2 separate regions of the Homo sapiens genome follow, and region 1 is linked to region 2. Evidence: fine-mapped expression QTL. A gene starts in region 2. The other region holds a variant in brackets. All regions are shown on one strand. Distances are from middle to middle.

What was found. PIP is the estimated chance that this variant, and not a neighbour inherited with it, causes the effect.
Region 1: its variant is the best candidate, but not a certain one, in a credible set for the expression of H3C2 in whole blood (INTERVAL, PIP 0.83).

Annotation. Positions count from the first base shown.
Region 1 is chr6:26,064,313-26,069,696 of GRCh38, reverse strand. No RefSeq gene overlaps it. Among named protein-coding and RNA genes, the nearest start is that of H1-2, 11 kb to the right of the region's middle. RefSeq lists an enhancer at 2,585-3,084 and a silencer at 4,931-5,070. The variant G/A (reference allele first, on the strand shown) is at 2,140.
Region 2 is chr6:26,029,292-26,034,675 of GRCh38, reverse strand. H3C2 (H3 clustered histone 2) reads left to right here and starts at 2,577. Exons shown (of 1, transcript NM_003537.4): 1 at 2,577-3,087. The coding sequence starts at 2,616. The coding sequence ends at 3,026. It overlaps H2AC4 (H2A clustered histone 4), which reads left to right and starts at 1,058. Exons shown (of 1, transcript NM_003513.3): 1 at 1,058-1,584. The coding sequence starts at 1,108. The coding sequence ends at 1,500. RefSeq lists enhancers at 531-580, 621-680, 984-1,613, 2,551-2,670, 2,711-2,940 and 1 more and a silencer at 1,101-1,200.

The DNA.
Region 1 (5,384 bases), 35 kb before region 2:
AAGTTTGCAAGAGCTAGAGAATGCTTTACAACGTGATAATAGAATGCTCTGTGATGACAGAAATCTTTCCACACTGTTCAAAACTAGCTACTGGCCACTTGTGACTATTGTGCACTTGAAATGTGACTGGTGTCTGAGGAGCAGAATGTTTAATTTTACTTAATTTTAATTCATTACAATAGCTACATGTAGCTAGGGGCTACTGGATTGAACAGCACAGCTCGAGTCTTTTAGAGGGAGACAGGACTCACCAAGATGGATGCTGGTGGCCAAGCAGCAATGGCAGGTAGTACACACACAAGAGGCAGATGATACAACACATCCTTCCCAAACCTGGAGATAAGCTCACCCCACAATCCCGCCGCTGAAATAGAGTTGATGTTACCAATGTGCATTTTTATGTCCTTTTCCATACAGAAAGATCATTCAGCAAGTACTATGGTACTTAAAAAACAACATTCAATTCATTATTATGACAAAATTAAATTAATAGCTCTTCCTTAAACTTTTAAATTCAATTTACAATGCTTACTATTGGCATTTATTAATCTACCAATTTTTTCCCATAGAACCCATAGAACAAATAATCTACCAAATTTTTAACATTCATTTTTGGCAAGGCTTTTGCAATTTGACGAACTTTAAGAAGAAAACTTATAAATTGCAATTTTTAAATCTGACATACTGGACTTTTAAAGTATCCAATTGACTAATGAACAAAACTGCTCCAAATTTTTCAATTCTTAAAAATCTTAAGACAATACTTAATATGGCAAATCTTAACTTCTTAAACTTTGTAAGAATGCTAATCAACTTAGATTGGTATAAAGTTGAGTTAAAAATCACAGGATACATCATCTCAGCTATAAGTTTTCATGAGTTGAGTTTTTACAATCACTTGAAATGCTTAGAATAGGAAATACGTATAAATTATTTAACATAAAATATTGTTACAAAACCTCTGGAGTGTCAGTTTCTCTGGCCAGACTTTATGCTGCAGCACCTTTGCCTGAGTTCTTGTCCTGCATCCAGGAAGAATTAGGTACAGAGGCAAGAGTCAAGAAGATTAGTTTTCCAATAGTTCAGCTCACCTAGTTAACTCCTGTTCACAATCTTCAAAGTTATCAGAAACCTGCAATTGAGGGTTATAATCCATTCTTTGCAGAGTTTCAAAACAAGACAACATTTGTCTATGAATGTTAAAATGTCCTAGGGTAGTCACAGTCAAAAACACAATTGACAAAGAAATTTAGTCACCTCTGTGATTTACAATAGCCTAACACAATAACTCTAATTATAACTGATGACACAAACTCAGATATCAGAACTCTAGAAATCCCCTATAATTTTGGAACACACATTCACAGTTTTCACTGAAATATGACCTGAAGATCAAATATCACCTTATTTCAACAATCCTATATAACTAAACGTGTCAAATGATCCTGTTTACCTCTCCTTTGGATACTCCAGGGGCCCTCTGTAGCATCCAAAAGTTAGGGGTTAGCAAAGACAATTTTGAAGCTGTAAAGGCTCAAAACACTTAATGAACCTCTAGTCATATCTGTTCTCTACTCACTAAATGCTAGTAGCACCTCTCAGTTGTGGCTAAGCTGGGAGGATCTCTTGAGCCTAGAAGTTTGGGGACGCAGTGAGCTATGATTATGCCACTGCACTCCAGCCTGGGCAACAATGCAAAATCCTGTCTCAAAAACAAAAACAAAAAACAAATTGCCTATGCTGTGGTTATCTCACAATTAATAAAAAGGAAAAAAAAAGTATGCAGTCTTTGTAGGTCCTTGGGGTTTGTTGGAACTCAGAAAACAATACCCCAAAATAAAGACCGCAGAAGCCAAAGTTTTTCTCTGATCTTCTCCTGCCCTCCTGTCTCTGAGTCCCATTCTCCCCGGAGTCTAGCCATAGAAATGAGAATTCCTCTTCCTCAAGTTAGGTCATAGAAATCAAAACACCTTTTCCCCAGAGCCCAGCCATAAAACCTAAAAATATTACTCTAACTTTCCCTCTGTTTTTCTGTGTAAAAACTGGCCATAAAGAAATTATCTGAACTACCTTATTTGATCATAGATCACCAGACCGCATTCCAGAGAGGATCCAGAAGGAAGGAATGCTGCACAGAGA[G/A]GCGAAGAAGAATCTAGACAGACAGGCCTTGCTGGGTTTCCCTACTCTGTTTATTAGCAATCCTATTTCTACACGGCGGCCCATACTTTGTTGAATCTAAAAAATAAAAATGGACAATTTCCCCTGTACATGTTAATACACATTAATAAATTGGATATAAATTGGATAATTTATTAATATACACATTAATAAATTGGATGCAGCCGGGTGCAATGGCTCACGCCTGTAATCCCAGCACTTTGGGAGCTGAGGCGGGCAGACCACGAGGTCAAGACCACCCTAGCCGAAATGGTGAAACCCCGTCTCTATTAAAAATACAAAAGTTAGCTGGGCGTGGTGGCACATGCCTGTAGTCCCAGCTACTGGGGAGGCTGAGGCAGGAGAATTGCTTGAACTCGGGAGGCGGAGGTTGCAGTGAGCCGAGATTGCGCCACTGCACTCCAGCCTGGTGACAGAGTGAGACTCCGTCTAAAAATAATAATAATAATAATAATAATAATAATAATAATAATAAATTGGATGCATTTTATCCTATTAATCTTCCTCTTGTCGGTGGTTTTCAGCGACTCTTCAGAGGCCAAAGAGTAAGTTTTCCCTTAGCCCCTACAGGTTCTTATGTTTAATTTGTTACTCTCATTTAAGACATAATTAAAGTGGCTTCTCCATGAAGATTATTTCTGCATCCATTATTTGGTAAGATTGGCCGTTTTCTCCTTTGATCTCTACTTCACACTGACCCACATAAAACATCACTGCCTGTTTTTTTGTTGTTGTTGTTTGGAGACGGAGTCTTGCTCTGTTGCCCAGGCTGGAGTGCAGTGGTGTGATCTCCGCTCACTGCAAGCTCCGCCTCCCGGATTCACGCCATTCTCCTGCCTCAGCCTCCTGAGCAGCTGGGACTACAGGCACCCACCACCAAGCCCGGCTAATTTTTGTATTTTTAGTAGATACGGGGTTTCACTTTGTTAACCAGGATGGTCTCGATCTCCTGACCTCGTGATCGGCCCGCCTCAGCCTCCCAAAGTGCTGGGATTACAGGAGTGAGCCACTGCGCCCGGCCCCGTTTTTTTTTTTGGTTTTTGCATGTCTTCTCCCTTTTACTGTAAACTATTTCCACTACCAGCGTAGTTATCATTTCTACTGCTTAATAATTGTTTTGGGGAAGTGAATGCATCAACCCACATGAATTTCTTGTCTATTTGACAATTTATTCTCTTTAGGAATAGTATTAACTCCTAAGGTCCTGGGAGCCAGTCTCTGTACTTGGCTGCTCCAGGGTCCTACTTCAGTTTCCCAGCTTCTCAGTACTGTCACTGTCAATTGTGGGTAATAATTATTTTTGTCCACCAAAAGACTCTGTATGTGAATGAGTTTTGAAATCTGCTGAGTAATACAGTGTCAACCCAGTTAATGATTTGCCGGGCGGCTTGATCAGGGGCTGTCCAACTACCGGCATTTTGATTTGGAGCGTCATCTAGTGTCTGAAAGCACAAACAACATCCTACATTGTAAATGCCTTTGGCTACAGAGATTGAAACCAAAGCAAACCTATGTTTTGAATTGTTATTCTTCAGCAGTTCTGCTAGCTTTGAAAAATCTAAAAGTTAAAAAAAAGCTTTATATTTCATTTTCTGCCTAAACTCTTTAAAATTGCTAGTTGACAATTAGATATTTTCAATTTAATGAAATTTTTTTTTAGTTCACAGATTAATACACAATGGGGGAGGGTTCTTATTCTGTTGGACTTTTACATAACCTCCACTTTAGTGCAGTCTGCTTTATGGGGTCTTGTTTGAGGTGTGTGTGTGTTTAAGGGAATGTGGTTTACAATCAAAATATTGGGTTGCTCTTAGGCACATTGTAAAGTCACACACCTGTATTCTTATTGATACATAATGATTAATAACATTATTATTACAGCCTGATCACCATCATTATTGATATATCTAAATAATGAATTTTATAATTTTGCTTCCTGTCAGGCAAGAGCCAATTTCAGTGCTACCATGTTTGTATAGCAGTATTTATGTCTGTCATCCTCAGTCATTTTACTTCACTTGTTCTTAGCCAAACGGCCGAGAAGCGATGGTCATTTTACTTCAAAAATGAAAAGAATTAATATTTTTACGTTTCCCTTAAAGACCCTATGTTTAACCTCCACTCCTGGGTAAAATGGTCTAGTCCCTCCTTTTCATATCATCTCTGATATCTTTTGCACAGCCACTATTACCTACCGTTTTCTAGATCCCTATTCTTCAAACACCACCATGAAGGTAGAGCCTGTCTGAATTATTTTCTTGTCCCCTGAACTCAGTACATTGTTAGGCTTCTTGAAGATGTTGATCAGTTGTTTGTGGAGTGAATGAATCAGCTAGCATGATTTTTCTAGACCACTGAGACAAGTGTCTAAGACACTTGTTCCTTCCCATGTTCTTGCCTGCCTGTGCAATCCATGCAGTCTCATGGCTTCCCAGTGCCTCAGAATTATCCCCTGTCAAACAGGCATTATAATTTCTGTCCACTGAAAAGGACAAAAAACTAAGTGTATAGCTAGAAGTTAAAAATTACCGGCCAGGTACTGTGGCTCACTCCTGTTATTCCAACATTTTGGGAGGCTGAGGCGGGCAGATCACCTGAGGTCAGGAATTCGATACCAGGCTGGCTAACATGGCGACCCCGTCTCTATCAAAAATGTAAAAGTTAGCCAGGTGTGGTGGCTCGCACCTGTGGCCCCAGCTACTCAGGAGGCTGAGGCAGGAGGATCGTTTGAGCCCTGGAGGTTGAGGCTGCAGAAAAATAGGAATATACTCTCTTTCAAGAGTTCGTGGTTTTGACTGCCACCTAGCGTACATCAGAAAAACCGCATGACATAGGAAATGCCTGTGACAGAGGGGTAAGGTGAGAGAGGTTGATGAAGAATGTATTGAAGGAGTGAAAACGCTTCCATCCCTCTACTTACTAAATATATTAGTTAAGTAGTTGGGGCATATTTTAATTCATGCATTTTGTAGATAGAAAAACAAAAGTTTTATTCTGTTTGATTTAGTTGATACTTTAATATGTGTGTGTTTAGGATGCATGATTTATAATCAGTCTGCAGCACTTCTTGGAGAAGTCTGAATTCTCATTCTCCATTTCCTTATTGGCAACGTGAGAATGATTACAATGGTGGTTGTCTCATAGAATGCAGGGAGTCAGAATGAAAATAGTCCATATAATGCCTGGTGCAGAGGAAGGGTTCAGTT
Region 2 (5,384 bases):
GGCACCTAGGAAACAGTAAATTCAAGGAAGGGCTTTCGCTGAACTCTAATCAAAAATTTGAAAATTAAAAAAAAATTCAAAAAGGAATTTAGTTGTTAAGATTCACTTCCCTGGGGAATCTCATCAACCAGAGAAGATTAACTGTATCACAGGAGAGGAGACTGGTGGTTAACACCATCTAAACAGACTTTGTCACAGCTGTCACCTATTCTTTGAAACACCCATTTATTTTTCTCCAAAATCATATACTCTCCCCTAAGTTGCCTACATCCCCCTTCTTTCTCCCTTATGAATCAAGAGAGCTTATAAGCTTCTACAGTTCACTGGGATTTGGGGTATTCGCTTTTCTTCCCTCCCACTCCCCCTCCCCTTTTTTTGTCTTTGAGACACAGTCTTCTGGCTCTGTCGCCCACGCTGGAGTGTGGTGGCTCTATGTGAACTCACTGCAACCTCCTCCTCTCGGGTTCAAGCGATCCTCCCACCTCAGCTTCTCGAGTAACTGGAACTACAGGCGTGCACTACCAAGCCCGGCTTTTTTTTTTCTTTTTCTCCCCCGTTTCTTTTTTGGTTATTTTACTGGAGACAGGGTTTCTCCATGTTGTCCACGCTGGTCTCGAACGCCTGACCCGCCGTCCTCGGCCTCCCAAAGTGCTGGTATTACGGGCATGAGCCACTGCGCCCGATTTGAAGGACCTCTTAAATATCTATTTAGAAATTGGTCGGAGTCCACTCCTTTCCAAAAACATGAGTCACAATCCGGGAAAAGCACGAGCGGCTGAAAGTCAAAATAACCAGAACAAAACCTCCACTCATGCTTAAAAAAGGTATTTTGACAAAATCCTAATTCGGCCAATTATTATTAGTATTCAAGTCGAAGGCTCGTCAAGCCAGACTGGGGATTGGGTCAAACATAAACCTTACACCAGACGGAAGGATTACATGCAAATGAAGGATGCAGATTCTGATTTCCCATTGGGTATTTGACATTAGCCAATGGGAGAATTCCTCACAGCCTACCTCCAGTCAGTATAAATACTTCTCTGCCTTGCGTTCTAATGTAGTTTCATTACATTTTCTTGTGGCGATTTTCCCTTATCAGAAGTAGTTATGTCTGGTCGCGGCAAACAAGGCGGTAAAGCTCGCGCCAAGGCTAAGACTCGGTCTTCTCGTGCAGGTTTGCAGTTTCCTGTGGGCCGAGTGCACCGCCTGCTCCGCAAAGGCAACTACTCCGAGCGCGTCGGGGCTGGCGCGCCGGTGTATCTCGCGGCGGTGCTTGAGTACCTGACCGCCGAGATCCTGGAGCTGGCGGGCAATGCGGCCCGCGACAACAAGAAGACCCGCATCATCCCGCGCCACCTGCAATTGGCCATCCGCAATGACGAGGAGCTTAATAAACTCTTGGGGCGTGTGACCATCGCGCAGGGTGGCGTTTTGCCTAATATTCAGGCGGTGCTGCTGCCTAAGAAAACTGAGAGCCATCATAAGGCCAAGGGAAAGTGAAGAGTTAACGCTTCATGCACTGCTGTTTTTCTGTCAGCAGACAAAATCAGCCTAACAGCAAAGGCTCTTTTCAGAGCCACCTACGACTTCCATTAAATGAGCTGTTGTGCTTTGGATTATGCCGCCCATAAAGATGTTTTTGAGGTGTTTTTAATGGCTTTGAGTGTGGCACTTTTAGTAATTTGTCCTGCAGAAATTAGATCCATAGAAACCTCAGGAATTCTAGGTATGTGGGAGAAGTGCCATGCAGCACAAAACATGTTTACAGGGGTGATTCGCGTTAAGTTTCACACACAGCAGTTACTACATTTTAGAGGAAGGAAATTATACCCATGAGTGCATTCCTAACTATCTTGAATGGAAGTGTTAAAACCCGCATGCCCCACACAAGTTTGAATATGTCATACCATTTGCTGTAGCAATTAATGGCATACACAATTGAGAGCACACACATTACCACTGAACATTTGAGTATGTATTTCCCAAAATGAGCTTTTTTCCAGTTTGGGGATGTTTTGCTTTGTTTTGGGGTGGAGTCTCCCTCTCGCCCAAGCTGCAGTGCAGCGGCGTGATAACAGCTCACTGTAACCTCGAACTCGGGCTCAAGCGATCCTCTTGACAGCCTTCTGAGTAGCTGGGATTACAGGCGAGAGCCGCCACGCCCGGCTAAGAGCATTTTTCTAATTGCCCACACTTCTTATGCGACACCCAGAAAAATACAATTTTAAATAAAGCGCATATGCAAATTTCCCTAATCGTCTCCAATATTCTCTGATTTCTTTTTTATATTTTAACTAGAAACAATTGGAGGTTTCCGCGTTGCTTTGTGTGGTTGTAAATTTTAAGACTTCAGGAAACTTTTCCAGTACAAGACTTGTCCACAGTGGATATAGCAGCTAAGGGGTTAACAAAATGACGTCAGAGTAGCTACGGTAATGGGCAGGAGCCTCTCTTAATCTGCAACCAGGCACAGAGATGGACCAATCCAAGAAGGGCGCGGGGATTTTTGAATTTTCTTGGGTCCAATAGTTGGTGGTCTGACTCTATAAAAGAAGAGTAGCTCTTTCCTTTCCTCCACAGACGTCTCTGCAGGCAAGCTTTTCTGTGGTTTTGCCATGGCTCGTACTAAACAGACAGCTCGGAAATCCACCGGCGGTAAAGCGCCACGCAAGCAGCTGGCTACCAAGGCTGCTCGCAAGAGCGCGCCGGCTACCGGCGGCGTGAAAAAGCCTCACCGTTACCGCCCGGGCACTGTGGCTCTGCGCGAGATCCGCCGCTACCAAAAGTCGACCGAGTTGCTGATTCGGAAGCTGCCGTTCCAGCGCCTGGTGCGAGAAATCGCCCAAGACTTCAAGACCGATCTTCGCTTCCAGAGCTCTGCGGTGATGGCGCTGCAGGAGGCTTGTGAGGCCTACTTGGTAGGGCTCTTTGAGGACACAAACCTTTGCGCCATCCATGCTAAGCGAGTGACTATTATGCCCAAAGACATCCAGCTCGCTCGCCGCATTCGCGGAGAAAGAGCGTAAATGTAAAGTCACTTTTTCATCAGTCTTAAAACCCAAAGGCTCTTTTCAGAGCCACCCACTTATTCCAACGAAAGTAGCTGTGATAATTTTTTGTTGTCTTAACAGAACAAATTTCTAAGGACCCCCCCGGAAAGCATTAGACTATGGTCTTAAAGTTGATTAACAGAAATAACGGTTTGGTCAGTCTTGCAGTGTAGGTTATTTCTGACCTTATTAAGGTGCTATTTGGAGAGAAGCTGTGTAAGTCCACTATCATTCAGGCCTCTAGCTTGCTATGATTAGCATTTGTTTAAACAACTTTGTAAGAGTAAGGGAAAAATCTGGTAAGTAGTTAACTGGCGCTTACTAGGCATTTTTGCAAAGCTTTGAAAAGATTAGAAAATTGTGTCTTGCGAGTTCCAGTGTCTTCCTCAAAATGCTTAGGAAGATTTTCTCAGCTCAATACATAGTCCCCTAGGTTTTCTCATATATTATATATATATATATATATATATATACTGTTAAATTCATTTGGCTGTTAACATTAACCTGAAATTTATTCTGGTGCAAAATGTGAGGCAGGGATCTAACTGGCTCTCATTTTATCCATAGCTAGCTACCCACTTTAAATCTGTCAGTCTGTCGACCAAGCATAATTTAATCCCTTATATATGAATTTTTATATGTGTGGCTTTGCTTGTAAATAGTCTATCTGGTTGCATTGCTTTGTCTCCTCTAGGACTATGCACCATGACATGCCACATTCTTTTTTTCAGTACTTCTTGCCTGTAGTTATTAAAATCTAGAATTTACAAGTTTTAACCATTTTCTTTCTGTTGATCTTGCTTTTCGGTTTTGGAGGTTGGGGATTGAGTACTGGAAGAAAATTTAGAGGGATGGGAATACTGTACGCAAACAAAAGTAATATTTACTTTAAAATTTTTATATTTTGTATTTTTTTATCATATAGCTTTTACATCACATTTTACAGACTAACTTTAGAACAACCACAGAATGTCCAACATTAAAACTACTAATTCCAAAGACCTTGCCTCACATTCTTTTTTACAATAAATATTTTTTACACCTAACATTCTTTCTTGGCCTACATCTAGAATGTAAACTGATGTACCATACTAAAATCGCCTGACCAACTGTCAACAACAACAAATCACACACACAAAAGATTAAATTTGAATTGCATCGTTTACTTAAATTCATTTGTGTTCCAGCTTTTAATAAGGCAGTTTTTGGTTTATAAAGTAATATTTGCATTTTAAAAATTATGAAAATGAATATGTCAGTTTGTTTTATGATTCGTTTTTCTTGACTCTTATACAAGCGACTCTAACTGGCATAGACATTTGTTATCCACAGACAGTATAGATATGTTAGAGATGCCAATGGACTTGGTCTATGCCAAGGTGACTACTCACAAGCTCTGGGCCCAGCTGAAGGTCAAGTATTTTTTTTCCAGTTATAGATGTGCTGGATCTGATGTATAGCGCTTGACTTTTTATATTTTCTTTATCTGTAGGAAACAAATGTGTTGGAGGTACTGGGTCTGACGAATAGCATAAAAGAATAAAGTTACATTACTGTCTGAGGATCAGATGGACAGGGGGTGGTAGCTCAGTCCAGCTATTTTCCACTCCCTCACTTACATTCTTTGCCCCCTCCTCAACAGAACAAGGATTCTGCTGTAACTCTTCATTGACAGTTGATATTTAAAAATTAACGAATGGATGAAATTCTCATTTGTGAAAGAAAATTTATTGAGCATTTTGTATTTGTGAGTAGTGCAAACATTTTAATATTATATTAAGAATCTATTGTTTTGTATTAGAGGAGTAATTAAGGAGAGATTGGAGACAAAAAGGGGGTGTTGTTTGCAGAATATACCATCCAAAAATAGACCACTGTGGGATCAGGATTCTTTTGAGCTAAAGGCACTTCAAAAACAGCATTCAAGAAGGGAATTCTTCTAAACTTTTCTTTCTGAAAACAGGAGATAAAAGTTCCAATGTGAAAAATGCTCTGCTTGTACCAGGTGAAAAGACATATTCTTCAGCCCAGAGGCATAGATGAGATAATTCTGCACAAACACAGCAGGGAGTCATAGCCGAGAGACTTCTATACACAAACAAACCTTGTTAAAATAATCATATATTCCTTTAATCTCCTCATATGGTTTACTTTCCCACAATTGCCTCTCTTTAACTTAATGTGAAAGCATTTAGCTTTTGCCATTTCTTTGGGGCTTCACTTTTTTATGAGGGTTCTCCTGTCCCATAAAATTTACATTAAATACATTTGTATGCTTTCATTCTGCTAATCTGTTTTATGGCAAATGAATTATCAGGTCCAGCTGGAGACCCT